3 linked regions of the Homo sapiens genome follow. The protein of the gene in region 3 purifies or fractionates together with the protein of the main gene of each other region. This does not show direct contact. Each region holds a gene or a part of one and is shown on either strand. Other genes may lie near its edges.

The links. Proteins that work in one complex are often made in the same cells at the same time.
Region 1: the proteins of GTSE1 (region 3) and PICALM purify together in Homo sapiens (affinity purification with mass spectrometry; 3 studies listed by BioGRID and IntAct, with this or other methods). This does not show direct contact.
Region 2: the proteins of GTSE1 (region 3) and ACAD11 purify together in Homo sapiens (co-immunoprecipitation; 4 studies listed by BioGRID and IntAct, with this or other methods). This does not show direct contact.

Annotation. Positions count from the first base shown.
Region 1 is NC_000011.10:86,065,832-86,074,232, forward strand, and holds the start of PICALM (phosphatidylinositol-binding clathrin assembly protein), read right to left. Parts: upstream 3,254-8,401; 5' UTR 2,950-3,253; coding exon 2,820-2,949; intron 1-2,819. UniProt on the Homo sapiens protein: Cytoplasmic adapter protein that plays a critical role in clathrin-mediated endocytosis which is important in processes such as internalization of cell receptors, synaptic transmission or removal of apoptotic cells.
Region 2 is NC_000003.12:132,558,557-132,566,230, forward strand, and holds part of ACAD11 (acyl-CoA dehydrogenase family member 11), read right to left. Parts: intron 2,662-7,674; coding exon 2,545-2,661; intron 1,387-2,544; coding exon 1,277-1,386; intron 530-1,276; coding exon 415-529; 3' UTR 1-414. UniProt on the Homo sapiens protein: Acyl-CoA dehydrogenase, that exhibits maximal activity towards saturated C22-CoA.
Region 3 is NC_000022.11:46,313,454-46,321,127, reverse strand, and holds part of GTSE1 (G2 and S phase-expressed protein 1), read right to left. Parts: intron 7,239-7,674; coding exon 7,115-7,238; intron 5,097-7,114; coding exon 4,716-5,096; intron 4,618-4,715; exon of another isoform or gene 3,265-4,617; intron 1-3,264. UniProt on the Homo sapiens protein: May be involved in p53-induced cell cycle arrest in G2/M phase by interfering with microtubule rearrangements that are required to enter mitosis. Overexpression delays G2/M phase progression.

The sequences.
Region 1 (8,401 bases), on a different chromosome or scaffold from region 3:
ATAATTCATGAATTATTAATAATCACTTCCTAATGTGGAAAGATCTTGGCGAGAAACTGACAGAAACCACCTCCACACTCTAAGGGCTTATACGAAAAACAACAGTCCTAAGCATATTTTTTGTTAAATGCTGCCATTTTAAAATGAAATCATTTTCATTAGATTCATATAAATAAGCATCAGTTGCTAGGGGCATTAAAAGGTGCACATAAACTAAGCTTTCACTATAAAGAAAAATTCCTAAAAGACAAAAAATTACTTGAAATGACAGGTTTCTGTATTAAAGCCTAAAGTTCATGATGTCAACACCATGAACTGTCCGTAGAAGACTTTTTAATTTTCTCAAAGCATGTTAGTGTGTGCAAGGAAGGTATTTGTTTAGTAAACCACTCACTGGTCAGACTTTACCTAAGATAAAGGTATTTTATTAGTGAGAACTGATTACAGGACATTTTAATCAACAATGTAGGGAAAATAGTATCCCTGTATTTTAAAACCTCATTGAAAAGAAACAGAAGCACATTAACGACACATATATTTTTAAATCAAATACTACCAGGTATATTCAAGTTCCAAAAACGTGGGAGCTTGTAAACACAGAAGTGGTAGAGAAAAAGAACGACAAATGCAAGATTATCCTCCAAACCTAATCCCAGTTACCATCTATCTGCAGTAGTGGCTATAACAAGAGAAATAGCTAATAACATTTATGAAACAACATGCAAATAGCACTCTTCTAACCCTACCTATTTTCTCCTCTTTTTGACAATGCTTTAAAAGAACCACTGCTACATTTGAAATAAGACACAAACCTTTACAAAAAAAACTTTTAAAAGCCTTATCGATTCTTATTTTGAATGAGGAAAGAGGAAAATAGTTCACACAGTCACAACTAGTTTCTTCATACTCCCATACAAAAAAAAAAAACAAAAAAAAACCAAAAGCAACTAACAAAAGAATTAACACAGTGTCAGGACAAACTGTAAGATTTGGTAGGGCAAACCAAGTAGTATTTGAAGAGCCGTAAATAGCAGAAACGTCTACTACACGTATCAGATAATCAAAAAATCACATATGGCTTTACGATGCATTTTAAAAAGTTTTCTGTTCATAAGAGTGTCACCATTTAAACATATTCTCCATTCTCTAAGACAAGCAAGGACTGAGAGTTTAAAAGCAGCCTGCATGCATATCTGAAAGAATCAAGCACTAATGCTTTTTTATTTAAAACTTTTTTCCACAGTGGAGGAACAATCACAAAGAATAATAGGCTTCTGTGTAGCAAAAACTTGTTCTAACAGCATTCATGAGCACAGTAACTTGGAAGAATCTACATTTCGTACATTTTTTTTAAAGTGCAAACTTTACGGCCAAAGTCCAAATGAGAAATCAAAACAGGCTTCCAGACAGTGAATTATCTTTCAGGGCATGCTCACTCTTGCTTCAAACAGTAAAACAAAGTAACTTTCATGTATGATGAAAGTCAGTCAGACTAATGTGTCCAGTCATTTAAAAAGGGAACTTACTTATCGTGACTATTGCCCTATTTTTCCCTGAAAAGTTTCAGGTCTAAGCTCCATTGGCTTGAGTGATCCAATGAGCTTTGTACCCTGGGGTAAAAGAGCGCAAAGAAAAAGGAGGGTATTACAGGTGACTTCCAGGTTAGAAAAAAGTTACGAGGAGTTAGCTCTACTAATTGTATCTACGTTAGCGAATGGACGAATACTATGTCGTGTAAGAGAAGCTAAAGCTAGTTCCTCAAAAGGTAACTGGCATAATTAAAACATCCAAACTCAAGCATCATCAAACATCATTTTGCCAATTTTTTTAAGGGATGTATGTTATTTGTAAGTAAATTTATTAATCCATTTGGAATTCCAACAGTCTACGCTTAACACTCAAGCTTCTGAATTCAAGCCGCCAGAATTAACAGTTCCAGGAACTGATAAGAGTATCAGCAAAATGCCTTTTTCCATATCCCCATGTGAAAAGCTGGGGGGCAGAGCTGACAGTCACAAACTCACCCCAGTCAAAAGTATGGACAACACAACGATTAAATTCCACCAGAGGCAAATAAAAATCCCAACTTTCCAGAAAGCTTTCCCTACACCAAATTGAATCCTTTTACTTTCACTCCCACAAAGAAGGTAATCTGAAATAAAAGTCGGGTAACTGGGTATGGTATTTAAAATGAGTCGAAGAAACTACACTGAAGCTACTATAGAGGCGATGAAAAGGTAACCCAAAAGCAGGAGGGAAGGTGGAACAGAAAGCCAGGAAGGGATGGGCGAAGCAGCTAGTGGAGCAAAGGAAGTGGGGGATCCCTTCCAGGGAGGCAGCCCGGAGGGATAACAAGGATCTGGATGCAAGGAACCAGGCGTTTACTGAAACCCGAAGGAGGCTGATGAAGAAACAATGGGGCTTGGAGACGCTCAGACGAGGGCGACGAGGCGGCACCGGACGGGTGGGAAGGAAGAGCAGAAGGCTGCAGTGGAGACGGGTAGGGGGTGAGAAGCCAGGTGGGGAAGCAAGTTGGTTGGGTATGATGGGGTGTGGTAGCGCACCGGGCAGGGAGACGAGGGTCCCCTAGGAATAGGGAGGGGAGTGGCTTGTCAGATTTTGAGACGGGGAGCGGAGGCCGTGAAGGCAGGTGTGATGGAAGCAAAAGAACACAGCTCAACGGGCACAGGACCGGCCGTGCCAGAGAAGACGCAGGGAGGGAAGAGGCAGTAGAAGGGTGAAAGACAAGAGAGAGAGAGAAGGACGCGCGCGGGTCGCGCGGGCGCCGGGGAGCGGGGGCCGCGGTCGGCTTCACTCACAGTCCAGGTGCTTTTTCTTGGGCCCCATGATCTCGTGGGTCGTGGCCTTGCATACTGTCTTGGATACGGCAGAGCCGGTGACACTGTGCTGGGCGGCAGTGATTCGGTCCGTCAGGCTCTGGCCGGACATCTCTGCAGCTCCTCCACCACCCCACCCGCTCAGCAGCCGGCGGGGACTGGGACCCCCAAGAGCCGGAGGGTCCCCACCCCCCACCGCACCCCCTACCCCCACCGGCTCCTTCCCCGCCTGCCGGCCTGGGGCGCGGTTCGGGGCCGCGCGCTGCCACCAGTCCAGAGAGAACCGGCTCGTGTCACCCGCGGAGTCGGACAAGATGTCGGGCACTCCCTTGCCCCCGCCTCAGTTCAGCCCACCCCTTCCCGGGTCAGCTGGAGCCGGGCAGGGTAAGAGGAACAGGCAGCTGCAGGAAAATGGCGGCGCCAGGCTCCTCCTCGGAGCTTTCCGGGCTGCCCCGGGTCACGTGACTCGGACACCGCCCCTCCTCCCTTCTCCCGCCCCTTTCCCCTTCCCTTTCCTCTTCGACGCCCGCCCTCCCTCGCTCAGCGAGGGAAGAGCTGGGCGGCGCCCGCGCGTTACGTGATGGAACTCGCCAGGCGGGCGCAACAGGAGGCCCGCCCGAGGGGAGTGCACAGCCGGCGCATCACGTGACTCTCCCTGCCAACAGGTCGCCTGAGGCTCGGCCCGCGGGGTCACAGACGCCGGGCGGGGCGGGGCGGGAGAGGAATGGCGAGGGCGGTGTGCTGGCGGGGGTGGGGCGGGGCGGCAGGCTTCTCCCCTTATCCCCCCACCTCAAGTGTGTCCTCGTGTCTGTGGTTGAAACCAACAGCTTGACAAAGGAGGTGCAGCTGCCTTCACAGCTTCCCCTGAAGTGGGGGGTATTAGGCCTCTGGCTCCCCGAGCTTTCCCAGCAGAGTCAAGAATGTATTTCAAGACGCCTCCCAAAGCCGCCCTCCTGGCTTAAAGGAGAAGGTTCCAAACGGCCTATTTTCTGAACCTTCCAGCAGGCCTCTCTCTACCATGGAACTATTGAAGCTCTCCTTATTTACTTACCCCAGAAAGGTTTTTTCCCCCCTTTCCTTGAGAGGCTTGGAAATGTCACCTGGTTTTGTTTATCTCTACTCCGAAAACCCGACACGTTGCTGCCATTCTAAATTTAGATACTAGCTGGCCGGTATTCATTCTCTAGGGTGTGGAATAGGACAGGAAACACATAGCTTCACTGGAATTTGAAAAGGGAAGTAGTAGGATGATGTCAACAGCGATTAGCTTGACCCTACATGGCTGACTGCTGTGGTGATTAAAGGTCCAGACCATAGAAGGAAGTGAGAGGGGCGGTAAATGGAGAAGTCCCATTCAAACAGTCCAGACATCACTGCCTGCCATCTCCCCTGGTTTAGTCTTTCTTACCTTTGGCCTCTTTTCTCTTATTGGGTGAGCCAGATTTCCATGGAAAGACGTTGACACTGCCCTGTGGACATTTTAAAAGAAGTATTACATCCTGAAATACTATTCAATGAGACCCAGACCATACATTAACAAAGCCTTTTATATGTTATTAGAGCCTCTACATTCAACCCAGGGTTAGGGATAAGTTGAAAAATATGTGAGTGCTAAGTTACCATGATAGTCACATGTAATCTTGCTAGTTTCAAATGAAATGCTAACATTCTCAGAAAGTCTGTGTACACCATCTGCCAGCCAAATCCAAAATACTGTGCTTCAATCTGGTGACTCTCAAAGGATGCAAAGCTGATAGATATTTAACATTTTATGTATCATATCAGGAATTTTGTGGTCTCCCATTTTCCCCACGCCCCCTCACCCCTCTTTTTTCCCCACTATGGCTGGTGAAATTCTGCAGCAACATGCTCTTGCCAAGAACACACAAGTTTTTAATCCCAGCAGGCTTCATCTTTGTCAAGCCAGCCTCCAATTTCACAAAACTATAATGAATTCCTTCAGTGTACTGCAATCCATCTGTGGTTTGGTGCCCAGTTTGCTGCCCCACGTCCACTGGGCAGTGGAATTACCAAATTCTCAAGACATGTTATCAGCCATCATTGCTACTGGTCTATGGGTTCCACTGTATAAGTTACTGATTGGCCTGAGCCTCTGCATTGGTAAACCCCAATCTGAGGTCAACACTAACATGGTCTAGCTATCAACAGCTGAATATTTTATCCTTAGGGAAAATGCCAGTCATTCCTAAGTACATAACAGGAAAGTATTACACTATTACTTTTACCAAAGAGGTTCTTTCAGACCACTTTTGTGACAATAATTGTTGACATGTTTACCCTATTAACAAACAAGCTGCTGTTAGAAATATTTTATTTTTTTCCAAGTATACATAGTAGAATTTCTAACTATGTAAATAATCAGTAATCATTGAAGAGGTTTATGTGTGGTTGTGAACTGAAATATATGGAGAAATTTAAAAGAAGATGGGGAATTGTTCTAAGGGTAGACATTACTGACCTATGTTGTCTTATATGCTTAAGTTTTCTGTGTCAGTTTCCTTGGTCTATTCAGGAAATATCTCTACCTGAAGTTCCACAGATGCCAACTCACCATGGCCAATACTGAACTTCTCTTGCCCTTGCCCAGCATCCTACATCTTTAATCCATACTGTTCCCTATATCCGTTAATGGCCTCACCACATGTCCAGAAGCTCCGCTCAGAAAGCTGTGATTCTGAGTTCTCCTTCTGTCTTATTTCCCTCATCAAGCCTAATCTACTTTTATCTCTCAAACACATCCCATCTCTAACCCCACTTCTGTTGCCTTAGTTCCAGCCTTTATGATCTCTGTTATACTAGACTGTTTTAGTAACTTCTTAGCTGATTCTCTGTCTTTTATACCCTGACTCTCCAATTCAGATCCTTCTGAAACCAAAATGTGATTGTCTTTTCTTTGCATTAAAATCTTCCAGTAACTCCCCCATCGCTACCCTAAAGGATGAAATTAAGAACTCTCAACCTGGCATACATGGTTCTTCATGATCTGGCCTCATTTTAGAAGTTTCTAAGTATGTAAATAATCAGTGACCATTGTAGAGGTTTATGTGTAATTGTGAAATGAAATACATGGACCAATTTAGAAGAAGATGGGGAATTAGAACTAAGAATAGGCATTACTGACCTACTTTATCTTATATACTTAAGTTTTCTCTGTGTCAGTTTCTTCAGTCTATTTAAGAAATATCTTACCTGAAGTTCCACATGTGCCAACTCACATGGCCACCTAAACCTGTTGAGCCTTGTCTCTTCCCATTCCTCTAAATTCCCCTACCTACCTACTACTTGTTGAGCCTCATCTCTTCTGATTCCTTTAAATGCACTCCAGACAGTATCACACTACTTGACATACTTGGATGTCATGCTGTTTCACATACCAATAAGCAGTTACTGATTTCCTTTTGTTACTCATATATCCTTCTGTTCTCTAATTATTATTGTGATTGACTAATTGCACTAACATGGGGGTGCAGAGATACATCCATGCTAGTATTATGGTTGATGCAAGGTAGATACACAGTAGATGGTGATTGAACGAATGAATGAGAACGCTTTGAAATCACGCATTCGGACACACCATCACTCCAAACCTCTCATTTGATAAAATCTGCCCACTTTTTCACACATTTAGCATGTCTACTGGGCATGGAGGCATAAGCCTATAGTCATAGCTACTTGGGAGGCTGAAGCAGGAGGATCCCTTGAGCCCAGGAGTTTAAGCCTGCAGTGAATTATGATCCTACCACCGCATTCCAGCCTGGATGACAGAGCAAGACACTGTTTCTAAAAATAAATAAAGCATGTCCATCCCATAATTATCTGGTTGGAGCATCATCCTTATTCAGTACCTTGTTAATTAATTTACTCTTTCAAAAAATATGTGTTGAACTGTGTGTCAGGCATAAAGGTTCTAAGTGCCAAACACTATTTACAGTGAACCCATCAGTCCTTTGGGAACTAGTTAGTTCTCAACTTGAAGGCCTCTTTGCTTTGATTGTAAAGGAGCAGACCAAAAACAGAAGGAAAAAACTTGAATAACACATTTCCTAGGTATTTCCTAGGCTCTTCCAACTAAAAGGTATGTTGTAGAGAGGCAGGGAGTGTTCGGAGAAGGAGCAGGTTTTTTTTATTGCCTCCTATGTGCTAAAAACACTACATTTTAAAAATGTAATGCTCATAACAATAATTTCAAAAAGTATCATGTCCAAGTATCGTGCCCATCCAATACAAGAAAACAGACAAGTCTTGGAAATTTTTTTTTTTTTTTTTTTGAGGCAGTCTTGCTCTCTTGCCCAGGCTAAAGTGCAGTGGCATGATCTCGGCTCACTGCAAGCTCCACCTCCTGGGTTCACGCCATTCTCCTGCCTCAGCCTCCTGAGTAGCTGGGACTACAGGCGCCTGCCACCACGCCTGGCTAATTTTTTGTACTTTTAGTAGAGACGGGGTTTCACTGTGTTAGCCAGGATGGTCTCGATCTCCTGTCCTTGTGATGCGCCCACCTCAGCCTCCCAAAGTGCTGGGATTACAGGCGTGAGCCATCGTGCCCGGCCAAGTCTTAGAAATTGAGTAACTTTCCAAAATCCCACAGATACTAAGTGGCAGAAGCAAGATTTAAAAAATAATTATCCTTCCAATACTCTGCCCAGACCCTTTAGCCAGTACTTGAAGCAACTGCCAATATAGACTAAATTTATTCAACAGATAGTTCTTGCCTTCCTGCCATGTGCCAGGCTTTTCTAGACGCTATGATAAAATAATGTGCAAGACAAACAGGGCCTCTGTTCTTAGAGATCTTAGTGTCTAAGTCTTAACAAAGGAGAAAATAGGTAAAAGTATGCTGCACCTGAGGAACCTTAAGTCATCGTCAATGACTTAAGAAAGTGGCAGAGAAAAGGAATATGGAAGAGAGAATTGACCAGAATTTTTACTTTTATTATAACACTTTGTTATCTAAATTATAATCTTTTGATATTAAGCTAACTAAACTGATATGAACACATGGCAAACCCTTCCCCCCTCACCTTTCTGTGTTTACACTTCCTGATGCTGCCAAATCAGTTAGAGATCATAACTTCACATAACCTTAAAAAGGTAAGGACTTTTCTTCATAGCTAAGTTCCCTTGCTAGAACCTCTAAACAAATAAAGTCATGTGCCGCGTGACATTTCAGTCAACAACACACCACAGATACAGTGGTGGTCCTATAAATTATAATACCATATTTTTACTGTATCTGTTCTATGTTTAGATATATGTTTAGCTACACAAATACCATTTTGTTACAGTTGCTTATAGTATTCAGTACAGTAATGTGTGGCACAGGTTTGTAGGTTAGGAGTAACAGGCTATAATATATAATCCTGGTGTGTAGTGGGCTATACCATCTAGGCTTGTGTAAGTGCACTCTGTGATATTCTGAAACCGACAAAATTGCCTAATGACACGTTTCTCAGCACTTACCCCATTGATATGTGATGTATGACTGTATTCCACTTCCAACTGCAGGAAACTTATTCAGGCTCCCAGAATACATATTTTTGACAATA
Region 2 (7,674 bases), on a different chromosome or scaffold from region 3:
ATGTCACGATCACAGCTTACTGTAACCTCAAACTCCTAGACTCAAGCAATCCTCCTGCCTCAGCCTCCCAAGTAGCTAGGACTACAAGCATGTGCCACCACACTTGTTTCATTTTTAAATTTTTTGTAGCAATGGGGGTCTCGCTATGTTGCCCAGGCTGGTCCTGAACTCCTGGCCTCAAGGAGGCACTAGATTGAATGACAACAGCTACAGCATTTCTTACTGAACTTAACCCTGTGTGACCCTTGAAATAATAAAACCCACTGATCAAAATAGATGCTATAATCTTTACCACAAATGAATAATTAACCCTGTGCTCAAACTGCTACAAAAATATGAGATTCAAATGTTGGAGCCAATGAAGTTTGTATAAAGGAGAGTTTCTGCCAGTGGGATGTGGCAGTGCCACCCTCCTTATATCTTGGCTGTCAGTCTTTTGGCTTGGTCCCGCAGCTCCATTGTTGCGATTGCTGAAAGATGAACTTCGTCAGGTCCATCTGCTAAACGCAAAACTCGGGTTATAGCATACCTGAAAAAGCAAAAGAATCAGGGAACACAGGGAGTTATGGAAGAGGAACATGATACTTTGACATCAGTCACTCTGATTGTCAACCAAGACTATATTAATTCTTAAATTCCACCAAGGTCAGGGTAAGAAAAAGGGTACCAGGAAAATAAGCTAAAGGGCTTCTGCAATGCCATCTTAAAGTTTCCAACTTGGGAAAGTTAAATGCCAAAGTACAGTGGAGTTCATCTCATTCTTGGTTTGCTACAGTTTACTACATGTTGCTAGAACTTAGAACAGGCAGTGACTGGTATGATACTATATATTTAGTTCTTTCTTAAGGTTTAAAATTGATGAAGGATGAGACTCTATCTCCATTGTGATAGAGAAGGTGACACTGTAATTATGTGTGGAGATGGACAGATGGGGAATGGAGAATGTTCCTTTCTGCCTCCCAGTCATCAGGATCTATATATTAGATAGTCACTGACATGTCCTGCTACAAATTCAGCGAAACCCCATGCTGTATCTACAGCCCAGGAATCCTCAGTGGGACCCCTCAGTGTAAAAATTAACATAATGGAATGAAATGATTATTGTAATAATAAGAGCAACTATTTCTTGGTGTTGAGCTCTATATTAATGTATATCACTTCATTTAGCCTTCAATTACACTGAAAATAAACATAAGCAATTAATGTCAAGGCATCTGTAGATTTTTTACCTCCACGCCTATCAAACGTAGATGATTCTTAAATGACATCTACTCACATGTTAGCCAGAGGGTAATCCTGGGAAACACCAGCACCTCCGCACACCTGGATGGCCCAGTCAACGATTTTGCTGACAGCCCGTGGGGCAGCCACTTTGATCATTGCAATCTATATAAGCAAAATATGAAAAGAATGCTTCTTTCTTAGACTATACACAATGTGGCAAAACTGGGAAATGAAACAAGGAAACTTTCCCACATCCAAGTCACCACTAAAACAGGATCTTTAACAAAAGCCAACAAAGAGATCCTGCTGCAATGCCATATTTCAGTCAATACAGACCCTCTGGAAAGAGACACCTCTTCCAAATCACATTTTATCCATTTATTTCTAACTTGTCTTGTTTCCAAAAGGATTTCAGGCAGCTGATAAATCACACTCATCACCTTAGGGATCATAAAAATAGTCCAAGGGTCTTTGCGCTATTAATCAGGTTTCTTTTAGCAGTTTTATGGGCTTTTAGAATTAAATGATTATGTCTTTATTTCATATAATCCAGAAACATAAGAAAGCAAAGGATGAGAGGTCTCTTTCATGAAACATTTACTATGTAGCAGTATCATGCTGTGCATTTTTTGTTTTGTTATTTGAGACAGGCTCTCACTCTGTCACCCAGAATAGAGTGGAGTGGCTATTCCCAGGTGTGATCATAGCTCACTACTGCTGCCTCAGAATCCTGGGCTCAAGCAATCCCCCTGCCTCAGCCTCCCTGGGACTACAGGTACAAGTTACCATGTCGGCTAATTTTTTTTTTAAGAGACAGGGTCTCACTATGTTGCCCAGGCTGGTCTCGAATCCCTGGCCTCAAACAATTCTCCCACCTCCACTTCCCAAGTAGCTTGGATTACAGGCGAGAGCCACTGTACGTGGCTTCTGCACATTCTATGTACATCATCTTGGTTACTCTTCACAACAACCCTAGGCCTTAGGCAGAAAAGTTAAGTACTTTGCCCGTGATCACAAGGCTAGAAGAAAGTGGCAGAGTGGGTGCAGTTCCAGGGCTGTGTAAAGCCTATGATTTCCCCCATTCCTTGTTGCTGTATCTTAAGAATGCTGAAGATATTCTCCCTCCTGAAAATCATTCCCTAAAGCACTTGCTAGGAGACTAGCAAGTGACAGGCATTTATAATTTATAACCCAAAATCACATGGGGGCTTCCAATATTCTGAGTGCCATCAAGATGCCATGAAAACTGAAATGTCCAACAGGTGAGAGAACTGGAGAAGGCTCAGCAGTTGGTGGTCTGAGGGGAGAAGGTAGCCTCACCTCTTTCTTAGCGCCAGCACTGCCCAGAGTGTCCATGCTGTGAGCAGCTTTCAGAGTCAACAAGCGGATCTTCTCAATGGCAATGCGGCTTTCAGCAATCCAGTGAGCCACAACCTCCTATAGGGGAGGAAAAGGCAGCAAAAGAAGGAGGAGCTAAGCTGGTATCTGATGTCCACGTGTAACACAGTCTTATAGTTTGGTGAAAACACTCTCTAAGCCAGAGATTGTTCACAAGCTTTACTCTATGTATTTTTAAATGGAAGAGTTAATTCATTTGATATACACCAGCCTAACCACATACTTGTGGAATGCTTACAGTTAAAATTGAAATATTTTAGAAAGAAATTTTATTTTCCCAGAAAAATCATTTATTTTGGATATCTTAATGTCTAAGGTAAAGATGGCTGAACTGAGCAACTGCCTTACCGCCAAACCACTCAAAGGCCCTCCTGAATGCTAATTGCCTGCTGTCATGGAAACTTGGCTAAATGTATGGTAGTGAAGCTGCTTACAGGTAAACTAGAAAATTCTCAGCACAATTTCAGTGTGGGGACAGTTCAGCAGCAATTTGCTGTGTTGTTATTGTTATTTATTCATTAAAAATGACCTTTTCTTTAGTAGACAGTTGAATTATAATACATGTATAGATTGGAATAACCACAGTCAAGAACACAGAACAGTTCCATCTCCCACAGAACTCCCTGGTGCTGCCCCTTTTTAGTCACAGGCTCCTCTCACTCCTAACTTCTGGCAACCATTGATAGGTTCTCCATCACTATAGTTTTGCCTTTTCCAGAATGTCATGTAAATAGAATCATATAGCATGTATTGTTTTGAGACCAACTTCTTTCATTCAGTTTAATGCCTTTGAGTTTCATCCAAATTGTTCTGTGTATTGACTGTTCATTCCTTTTTATTGCTGAGTAGTATTCCATTGTAAGTATGTATCAGTTGGTTTATCCATTTGCCTGTTGAAGGACATTTCGGTTGTTGCCAGTTTTTAAATTTTATTTATTTATTTTTTGAGACAGACTGGCTCTGTCGCCCAGGCTGGAGTGCAGTGGCGCCATCTCAGATCACTGCAACCTCCACCTTCTGGGTTCAAGCGATTCTCCTGCCTCAGCCTCTGAGTAGCTGGGACTACAGGCGCCCATCACCATGCCTGGCTAATTTTTGTATTTTTTAGTAGAGACAGGGTTTCACCATATTGGCCAGGCTGGTCTTGAACTCCTGACCTTGTGATCTGCCTGCCTCGGCCTCCCAAAGTGCTGGGATTACAGGCGTGAGCCATCGCGAGATTATTCATAGAGTTTCTGTGTATTTGTATACGGGTTTTTGTGTGGACATGTTTTCATTTTTTAAAGCAGATAGCAGGAGTAGAATTGTTGGGTCAGTGGTAAATGTTTATTAAGAAGCTGACAGTTTTCTAGAGTGGTTGTACATTTTGCATTCCTACTAGCAGTGTATGAGAGTTCCAGTTGCTCCTCAAACCATCAGCACTTAGTATCATATTTTATTTTAGTCATTTTAAGTGTGCAGAGATATCATGGTTTTAATTTGCATTTCTGTAATGGCTACTGCTGTTGATCCCCTTCAATGTACTGATTTGCCATCTCTATACCTCTTTGGTGATATGTCTGTTAAAGTCTTTTGTCCATTTTTTAATTGGGTTGTTTTCTTACTATTTGATTTAGAGAGTCCTTCATATATTCAGGACGCTAGTCATTTGCCACATGAGAAATCTGTCAATTCTTTCTTTTATGAGCCTTGCTTTTGGTGCATGTTTAGGAACATTTTACCTAATCCCAGAAAATGATTTTTCCACTATGTTTTCTTCTAAAAGTTTACAGCTTTACCTTTTACATTTAGATCTATGATCCATTTAGAGTTAAAATTTTGTGTGAGGTGTGTGGTTTAGATCAAGGGTCCCTCTTTTGCCTATCTATGTCCAATTGCTGCAACACCATTTACTGTAAAGATGTAACCTTTTCCATTGAACTGCCTTTGCACCTATGTAAAAAATTAATTGGCCTATATTTCTATGAATCTATTCCTGGACTCTCTCTTCTGCTCCAAAGATCTACATGCCTTTTGCTCACTGATTACTGTAGTTTAGAGTAAGTCTTAAGATTAGGTAGTGTGATTCACTGAGCTTTCTTCTTTTTCAAATTGTTTTGGCTACTTTAGTGTTTTTGTATTTCCATATAAATTTTAGGATCAGTCTGTCTTTATCTACAAAATTGTCCTTTTGGGACTGTGATTGGAACTGCCTTAAGTCTGCAGATCAATTTGAGGATGGTTAACATCTTTAATCTGTTAGTCTTCTAATCTACATATTTACTTAGGTCTCCTTTGATTTATTATATCACTTTTTTCTACTTTTTAGTGCATGTGGATATTGTACGTGTTTTGGTAGAGTAGTACTTAAAAAAAACTGTTGTAAATGGTATTTTAAAACTTTCAGTTCCCCCATTGTTCATTGCTTGTATATAAAAATAAAATTGTTACGTACTGACCTTGTATCCTGTGACTTTGCTAAACTCACTTATTAGTTCTGGGAGGGTTGTTTCGTTTTGTTTGATACGTTCCTTAGGATTTTCTATACAATCACATTGTCATCTACAAGCAGGCCCAGTTTTACTTCTTTTTTCCCCCAACTACATGCACTTTTTTTCTCTTGTTTTACTGCACTGCCTAGGAATTCTTCTATGATCATAAATTGGAATAGTGAGGGTGAACATTCTTGCCTCATTTCCAGTTTTGGGGGAAAAGCATTTAGTCTTTCATCATTAAGTATGATGTTAGATTTTTAAAAATACTCTCTATAAAGTTGAGTAAATTCCTTTGTATTCCCAGTTTGCTGAAAGTTTCTATCATAAACAGATGCTGAATTTTGTCAAATGCCAAAGCATCAATTGATATGATCATGTGATTTTTTTAATGTTCATGCAGTTTTTGCTGTTAGTTTGGCAGATTATAATAATTTATTTTTAATTATCGAGTTATAGACATGAATCAGGCTTGCATTTGTGGGATAAACCCTACTTGATTATGCTGTATGATTATTTTTACATACTGCCAGATTCTATTCGGTAATACTTTGCTGGTGGTTTTTGCATCTATATTGGTCTATGGTTTGTTCTTGTCTGGTTTTGGATTAGGATGATTCTGGCCTCATAAAATGAGTTGACAAGTGTTTCCTCCTTCTCTATTTCTGGAATAGATATGTAAAATTGGTGTTACTTCTTCTCTAACTGTTTAGTAGAATTTACCAGTAATACCATCTGGGCCTGAAGATTTCTTTTTTCAGCAGCTTTTTAACTTTGAATTCAACTTCTAACAATAGTTGTAGAACTATTCAGGTTATCTACTTCATCTTCGGTGAGTTTTGATAGTTCATGGGATTTGAGGAATTGGTCTACTTCATCTAAATTGTTAACTTTATGTGCTTTGTACACATACTAGAGCGTGTGGGTCCCAAGTCCTAGATCTGGAATGGAGGAGACTCTACTTCAGCCTTGGCTCCAGACCCCATTCTCCAATCCATGTTTTCCCAGAGAGCTCTGCATTGTGGCTTACAGACAGCCTACACAGACTAAGAAAATAAGTATGTCTGATATCCTCTGCTTCTAACAAGGATGGAATCGATATATTTTTCTCTATTCCTTCTGTTAAGTACAACTAATAACCCTGGGCATTATCTATAAAACAAACATAAGAAGACTCTGAAAGGTAGAGAAAAGGCAGACTATTTAGGGACTTCAGGTCCAAAAGAATAACCTAGTGGTGTGTTTCCTAGGTTTTCTTTTTGCCTCATATATCTCAGCTGCTGAGGTTCTTCCCGGCAGCTGAAGAATCTAGTAACCTGGAAATGTCAGTGAGCACAGACCAAAACAAAACAAAAACATAAAGCACCCCAACAAAAGTATAATCTCTCTAACCAAAGGATCAGGAAAGATGCAGCCTAGCAAGCCAAAAATCTTTTAGAGAATAACCACTTTACTCCAGCCAAACACCACAGAAAAAACATTGGCCCCCACCACTCCTCACACCAGCAAAGGCAGGATGGGGAGCGTAGGCTTCCACCCTGGCAAGCACTGTAATGAGGTGCCCCAGCTCCCCTGCCAGGAAGGTATCAGACAGTGCCAAGTAAAAACCTGAGGCTTTCCTCCCCACTGGCCAGTAATAAGTCCCCCCAACCCATCTTATGGGTTGTTAGTGCAGTCCAAATGGGATGCCTGGACTTTCATCCCACCTGGCAGTATGAGGGCATCATCCTCTTCAGGTACTGATGGAAGCTGGGAGGGGAACCTGGACTTCTCTCTCTGCCTAGCAGTAATGAGGTGATGCCACTCCTTTCTCTGACAGAATGGTGTCAAAGAAAGCCAAGAAGGTTTAAAAAGGTCCAGAGTCTCACAGTATAAAACTGTTCAGGTTTCAATTTTATAAATCACCCATAATACCAAAAACCTGGAACAATTCAAAATTAATTTTTAAAAAATAAAGAGACACCGTGATATAGTTTGGATGCTTGTCTCCTCCAAATCGCATATTGAAACATGAAGGTGGAACCTAGTGGGAGGGTCATGGGGGAATATCCCTCATAAATGGTTTTATGCCTTCTCTTCAGTAATGAGTTCACATGAGATCTGATTGTTTAAAAGAGTCTGGGATGTCCCCCCTTATCTCTCGTTCCCTCTGTTGCCACGTGATGTGCTGGCTCCCCCTTTACCTTCCACTATGATTGTAAGCTTCCTGAGGTCTCCCCAGAAATAGACATTGGCATTAGGCTTGTACAGCCTGCAGAACCATGGGCCAAACAAAACCTCTTTTCTTTATAAATCACCCAGTCTCAGGTATTCCTTAATAGCACTATAAAATGGACTAACACACCCAGATAACAGAGATGTTAGAATTTCTGACAAAATTTTAAAGCAGCCATGATAAAAATGCTTCAGTGAGCAGTTACAAACACAGCTGAAGCAATTGAAAAAATAGAAAGCCTCAGCAAAGAAATAGAAGATGTAAAGAAAAACCAAATGGGTATTTTATAAGTAAAAAATATAACAGTTCAAATAAAAAGCTCAGTAAATGGGTTCCACAGCAGAACAGAGGGGACAGAGGAAAAAA
Region 3 (7,674 bases):
GACCCCGCACCATTCACAGAGGTCTCTGTGAGACCCAAGTTGGTCACTCCTGGCGGGTGTGGAGGCAAGCCCACCTCTCTCTCCCTCGCCGCCTCCCTCTCCCTTGCCGCCTCCCGTGTTGGCTCCCTCTCTCCCGAGACCCCTTCCTCTCGGTTGTCCTCTCCCTCAGCTGGGTGGAGCGCACTCTTCAGCAGCTTCCATGGTGGCACGGGAAGGTCATTCTTATGAAACAGAACACGAACAAGCCATCTCCTGACACCCTCACGACTGCCCTAGGGCTGCCTGAGCACGCACGCCTCCCAGGCCCACATCAGCTCTTCCCTAAACCTGGACGGCGCGTCTCCACTGCAGCTCCCAGTACCGGGGAGGCAAAGCCCACAGCCAGAATTCCAAGTCTCAATCCTCTGGGTGACCCGGCAGCATGGACTCATAGTAAATAGCAACATTTGTAACTGGACTGTTTTACAAAGAATGCTGCTTGCCTCGAGTATTTTGAGAAAGTGCACATATGAAAGCCTCCACTACAGGGCACCGTTCATGTGGTCCCACGCTGTGAGTGCCCTCAGCCCTCACCTCTCCTCCACGGTGACAGCTGGTGTCACAGCCAATGAGCAACACCACCAGTGCTCTCAGCCAAAAAGTGCACACCACCACGTGCCTCCCAGAGCTGTGTGTTCCCAACAGCGTGGCTGCTCCCCTGGGGCCTCTCTTCCGGCCAGTGCTGAGTTTGTGGGACCAGTTTTGACCCTGATGAATGACCAAAGGCGTGCAAGAGACAGTCCTGTTCCCAGCATTGTGGAGAGAGGAGGAACCGCCTGCCGAAGGTGAAATGCACATCTGAGAGGTGCGTAAGGAGACCGCAGGGACACGCTCTGGGAAACAGGGCAAAGCCAACAGGGATTTGGGATTAGCAGAAGTCCTGTGGCATCAAGCAGCCCGACAGCCAGGAGACCAGCCAACACTTGTGCCAACGTGGTCAGGAGAGACATGGCAGACGCATGTCCTGGCTCCAGGCATTCAGGCAGAAGGGAAGCAAACACTACTGAACACACCTCCACATGACCTGGGCCGTAGGGTGTCCCTGCAGAACCCACCCAATCACAGCTCGCATTTCTTTTCTTTCTTTCTTTCTTTTTTTTTTTTTTGAGACAGTCTCGTTCTGTCGCCCAGGCTGGAGTGCAGTGACACCATCTCGGCTCACTACAACCTCTGCCTCCTGGCTCAAGTGATTCTCCTGCCTCAGCTTCCCAAGTAGCTGGGATTACAGGCATGCGCCACCATGCCTGGCTAATTTTTCTATTTTTAGTAGAGACAGGGTTTCACCATGTTGACCAGGCTGCTCTCGAACTCCTGACCTCAGGTGATCTGCTCACCTCGGCCTCCCAAAGTGCTAGGATTACAGGAGTTAGCCACCGTGCCCAGCTCACAGCTCCCATCTCTACAAACTCAGCTCTCTGCTGTTGAAACCTACACTGAGGTCTCCAGCTGTGGCTTCTCCTCTGAGCTCTCAGCCTGCTCCACCCCTCAGCTGCAGCCTAAGTGGCCTCTCACCCTCACTACTTCCAAAATGGGGCCGTGGACTCTGCCCGCTGCCTCTTCCAGCCCTCCTGTCACATGAGTGGCAGCACCCAGGTTCCGCCAGAACCTCAGGGACACTCGAGTCCCTCTCTGCACTGCCACATGAGCCCTAAGCTACCAGAACGTCAGGCAGACCGCAGCGCTCCAGCCTCCTTCCCCAGCACTAGCTTCCTCCCCAACACAGTGAGGGCCAGGTCCGCATTACCCTCCCCACCACTCTTCGGCCCAGAGACTCTGCTCTTCCCTCTGTGGAGGGACCTTCTGAAGGTCAAGTCGCTCTGCTCTGATCTCTCCTATGCACGTCCTCCTGCACTGACGGTACTCCAGGGTCCGCTCTGGTCACGCGGCGCTCTGGGAGCCGGCCTCGGGCTGCCCCTCCATCTTCATCTCTTCTTACCCTGCCCCTCGGTCACTGACTGGCTGAGGTTGCTAGTTTTTGTTCAACAGCAACTTTCCTCTTCTCAGTAAGAAATTTCAGCTGTGTGCGGAATAAAGACAACGTGTCCTAGCATCCTGTGCAGGGAAGCGTCGTACTCAATGGGACACAAACGGAGTCACAGGGACAACTTGCAGTGAGGGTCCTTGAAAGGTGGGGATTTGCTCTTCTTCACCTAGAAGAAGGCTTCCTGCCGGGAGGTATGAGGGCCAGAGCCGGTGCAGCCACACTAGACCATGAGGATGAGAAGCTCATCACGGCAGCACAGGATGGAGTAAGCCTGGGTCCCTGACACCAAGGAGTACTGACCAGCTGTCGCACGTCTACGCAGAATCCCGACCGCAGCGGCTGCACTCCCACCCTCCGGCCCCCATGCTGCTCCCAGAGCACGTCCCACGCCTTCCTGCCCCAGGACCTCTGCACTCCTGCCGTTGCCTCTGCCTGGAGTGCTCCCCCTTGCACTTTCCTACCGGCTGCCTCAGTCTCCTGGTTCAGATCTCAGTCCCGTGTCACCTCCTGACCATCTTTGCCAAAGAACCACCCGATGCAAATTCCTCCCCAAACATGCCAGCTCCAGGACACCATCTTCCCTTAGTCCCTTTGTTGTGCTAGGATCTGCAGGCCTGCTCATCTGATAACATTTCGTATCTTTTCCTATTAAACAGAAATTCTGTGAGAGTAGGTCTGTCTTATCATGATGTCCCTTGTCCCCCAAAGCATTCCAGCACAGAGAAGACACTCAGCAGAACAGCTTGTTCCTACAGCAGGACTCAGAATGCAGTTTCTGGGAGTTGCAGGCTGCCTGTGCTGGCCGGCACTGCCAGAACTTAAAATCCTCAAGCACCCAGAGGGCAGATCTGCCTGACAGAGGAGGCCAGGACGCTCCTCTCACCTTAAGTCAGCTCTGAGAACTTTCTGCATTGCACACAATTGTTCAAGAAATTCATGAAAACTTTACAAACACCCACCCACTAATGGCCAGACACCTGCTGGGGCCAGTGGCCTCACTGACTGGAGAAGGCAGTGGCTGGAGCTCAGGAGGCTGAGGTGGCTGCAATCTGAGGGCCAGAAACTAGAGAGGAGGGGGCTACTCCGACAGAACGAGCTCTAGGAACCCAAGGGAATCTCGAGTCTCTGGCTGAGCACCAGGCAGTGCACAGGTGCAGGGCAGGAGTCCTCAAGGTCAAGAGAAGAGCAACTACCAGGGAGCAACGAGCGGAGCTCACAGGGCCGAGAAACCGCCGTCTTACCAGGGAGCAACGAGCGGAGCTCACAGGGCCGAGAAGGTGTCATCTTGCAGCAGCAGGAGTGCAGGGGTCTCGCGGGCCTTGCGGGACACACGGGTGTGCAGCAGAGGCCTTGGGAAGGACGCCGGTGGCGGGAGGCGGAAAGGCTATGCTAGACCCACCACTTCAAAGCATAAAAAGCCTCGGAAGGATGATCTGCACCTTAACTGCCTGCCAAGCCCAACCCAACTCCTCAGAGAAAGACAACAAAATCCAGACATTCAAAAGTGTACACCTGACAATATCCAACAACCAAGAAAAACTTGTGAAAAATGTAGAGGCAGGAAAATGAGGCCAAAACCCGGAAACAAAATTAGTCAGTCGAAACAGACCCCAAAATGATGGGGAAGATGGTATGAGAAGAATCGTAGACCCTAAAACCATTATCAATTTGCTCACGAGGATGTAAAAGAAAACCCAAGTACCATGAGAAGAAATAAGGGGAAACTATTATGTTAGAAACAAAGTTAACTGGATGGGCTTCACAGCTGTTAGGCACTGCAGAAGAAATGATATCTGACAACAGAAACTACCCAAACTGTAGCTCAAGGAAAAAGGCTGGGCCGGGCACGGTGGCTCACACCTATAATCCCAGCAGTTTGAGAGGCCGAGATGGGTGGGTCACTTGAGGTCAGGAGTTCCAGACCAGCCTGGCCAACATGGCGAAACCCCGTCTCTACCAAAAATACAAAAAAAAAATTAGCCGGGTGTGGTGGTGGGCACCTGTAATCCCAGCTACTCGGGAGGCTGAGGCAGGAGAATTGCTTGAACTCGGTAGGTGGAGGTTACAGTGCGCTGAGATCGCGCCACTGCATTCCACCCTGGGTGACAGAGCGAGACTCCGTCTCAAAAAACAAAAAACAAAAAAAAAGAAAGAAAGAAAAGAAAAAAGATAAGAAAAAGAAAAAAGGCTGAAATAAAAAAAAGAACAGAGCTTCGGTGTCCTGTGAGACAACGTCAAGAGGCCTGAAATAGATGTGATTAGAGTCCTAGGAAATAAAGTGGAAAGAGGAAAAGATAGCTGAAGAAATAATGGCCAACGTTTTCCAAATTTGCTGAAAAAAACCAACCCACAGATCAAAGAAGCTTAAGAAACCCTCAGCGGGATAAAGGCAAAGAAAGCCACCTCAAAGCACATAATAATCAAATTCCCGACAGTAACACTAAAGAGAAAACCTTACAAGCAGCCTACGAGCATTGGGGTGTCACACACACAGGAACGAACGTAAGACATTCAGGGAGCCTCCAGTGACCCCCCAAAACAACGTGGGCGAGAAGACAGCGGGTCACACCTGAAAGCACTGTTGGAGGAAAGAACTAAAAACACCATCAATGCCATCAATAATTGTTTAAAACTTTAAATGCAATTTCTTCAGTATTTTTTAAAGACACATTAAAATGTATCTATTACTCACCAATAGAAAACTTAGGAATTTTAAATTGATTTGTAGGAGTAGGCATAACCTTTGTCTTGGAATTTAGACAGGAATCTCGCCGTCTGATACTTCTAGTCTTATTCAATTGAGAAGATTCTGACCAAGCGCAACTGGAGTTCAGCCACTGGCCGCCACCTTCCGGAGTCTGGGGTTGGGTGGGGGATGCTGAGGGGGGTGCCGTGAGCTGCTCCGCTGCCAGCTCAGAAACATCGACCCGCTTGGCCTGCCAGGAGGATGCCCCCACAGGGCCTGCAGGCAGAGCTGGCCGCAGCATGGCGGGTCCCATTCTGCCTGACTTGCTGATGTTTGACAGAGGCCGGGAGCTATTTGCAGGAATACTTGCAAATTCACTTGATTTAGCTAGAAGGTATACACACAAAAATCACATTATTATAAAAGTATGAAGCTATTTAACAAACACACAGAAGTTATGCTGTCTTTAGCATATCTACCTTAAACATAAGACACATTAACAATATTCTATAAGCCCTTCAGGCAACATCATCAAACACAGGATGGCTCAGGCAGCTTTTAGCTTAGCTGAGTGTATTCTAAGGTACTTATTCTCAAAATAATTACTAACATGTACATAAGCATGCATAAATTCAAGCTCTCCTATCTTCGTTGATTATGTTGGCAGGAGAAATCTACATTAGTTGAGCAGATGGAAGGGGATAGTCTAGTCACATGTCTCACCTGTCTGGTCACAGAGGTGGGCAGGGAACAAGGAAAAAAGACGCAATTGTTACTGGTTGATTCCTTTAAAATTACAAGGAGGCTGCGTCATATTAACCATAAGCACTATTTAAAATAGAAGACCAGATAAACTAGGGTAATACATACTGAGCTACCAATATACGCAGACGATCTGGTAAAGGATTCTTAAAGAAAAACTTTAGCCCAGGAGTGGTGGCTCACGCCTGTAATCCAAACACTTTGGGAGGCCAAGGCAAGAGATCACTCAAGGCCAGGAGTTCGAGACCAGCCTGGCTAATATAGTGAGACCATCCTCTCTACAAAAAACACAAAAATGTGGGCCAGGCGCAGTGGCTCGTGCCTGTAATCCTAGCACTTTGGGAGGCCAAGGCGGGCGGATCACGAGGTCAAGAGATCGAGACCATCCTAGCCAACATGGTGAAACCCCGTCACTACTAAAAATACAAAAATTAGCCGGGCGTGGTGGCAGGTGCCTGTAGTCCCAGCTACTTGGGAGGCTGAGGCAGGAGAATCACTCGAACCCGGGAGGCAGAGGTTGTAGTGAGCCAAGATTGCGCCACTGCACTCCAACCTGGCAATAGAGTGAGACTCCATCTCAAAAAAAAAAAACCCACAAAAATTAGCCGGGTGTGGTGGCATGTGCCTGTAGTCCCAGCTACTCAGGAGGCTGAGGTGGGAGGATTGCTTGATCTCAGGAGGTCATCACCTCAGTCTATAAAGATAAGGACACAAACCTCTCTTAATCACAGAATGGCAGAGTCAGAATTCCAGATCAGATCAATCTGATTAGAGAGTTCACACTTATCATTTTTTTTTTTTTTTTTGAGACGGAGTGCAGTGATGCAATCTCGGCTCATGGTAACCTCTGCCTCCCGCGTTCAAGCCATTCTCGTGGCCCAGTCTCCCGAGTAGCTGGGACTACAGGCACCCGCCACCATGCCCGGCTAGTTTTTGTGTTTTTAGTAGAGACAGGGTTTCACCATGTTGGCCAGGCTGGTCTCAAACTCCAGGGGTCAAGCGATCCACCCATCTTGGCCTGCCAAAGTGCTGGGATCACAGGCGTGAGCCCCTGCGCCCGGCCCACTTTTTACATTTTGTGAACACAATCCACACCATGCTGCCCTGAACGACCCCGAGACGCCACATGGCCAATGCACCTCGAAGAGGATTTCGCTCTGAAGAGCAGAAAGGCGAAGGCTTTCCCTTACCACTAGATGGCAGCTGTGGCTTGGCAAGGTTGAAATGTGGCTTGACCTCAAACAGGTGTGGGAGCATGGATTTAAACAGGCACCCAGGAGTTATGGGGCCATATGCCCTACATTATCTGGAATAGTCCTATTTTAAAACTGGTGTCTCATGACATGGACATGAGGGTGATTCCAGTGTCCATGTTCTCAGGCACGGGGTATCATACATGCTTTCTGGCCATGTGTACCCCGTAGACTGAAGCCACCCATCTGAGTGTGCCCTCCTCATGGGACAGAGGCACTGAGGGCAGGTACAGCAACTCAGTCCACAGCCTGGTCCACCGCACACAGCACGCCCTCCGGGACGTCCTGCCAAGCCTAAGTGGTTCTGCAGAAACAGTCTCCAAGGCCTGAGCAGCACTCCAGGCCTCACCTGGCCAGATGTGGGTCCAAGCATGATGCCGGCTGCCTCACCTTTGCCCACTGCTGGGGATGTGCACGCACTGGATGCCCCGCTCCAAACAGGCCCCGAGGAGGACTTCCTTGCGAGATTGCTGGTAGAGCCGGGTGCTTTTAACAGGGTCTTCTTCAGCCCCAACTGGGGCAAAATGTGAAAAAACAGAATCAGCAAAGATCTCGTTATTTACCTATTACTTGTGTCTGCAAAAGTAAGGGGTTTTTGGCTGGGCACGGTGGCTCACGCCTGTAATCCCAGCACTTTGGGAGGCTGAGGCCGGAGGATCACAAGGTCAGGAGTTTGAGACCAGCCTGGCCAATATGGTGAAACCTTGTCTCTACTAAAAATATAAAAACTAGCTGGGCATGGTGGCAGGCACCTGTAGTCCCAGCTACTCGGGAGGCTGAGGTAGGAGAATTGCTTGAACCCGGGAGGTGGAGGTTGTAGTGAGCTGAGCTCGTGCCATTGCACTCCAGCCTGGGCGACAGAGTGAGACTCCGTCTCAACAACAACAACAACAACAAAAGTTGGTGTTTTTACTATTTTAAAATAATCTAATAATTATCATCTTGAATTT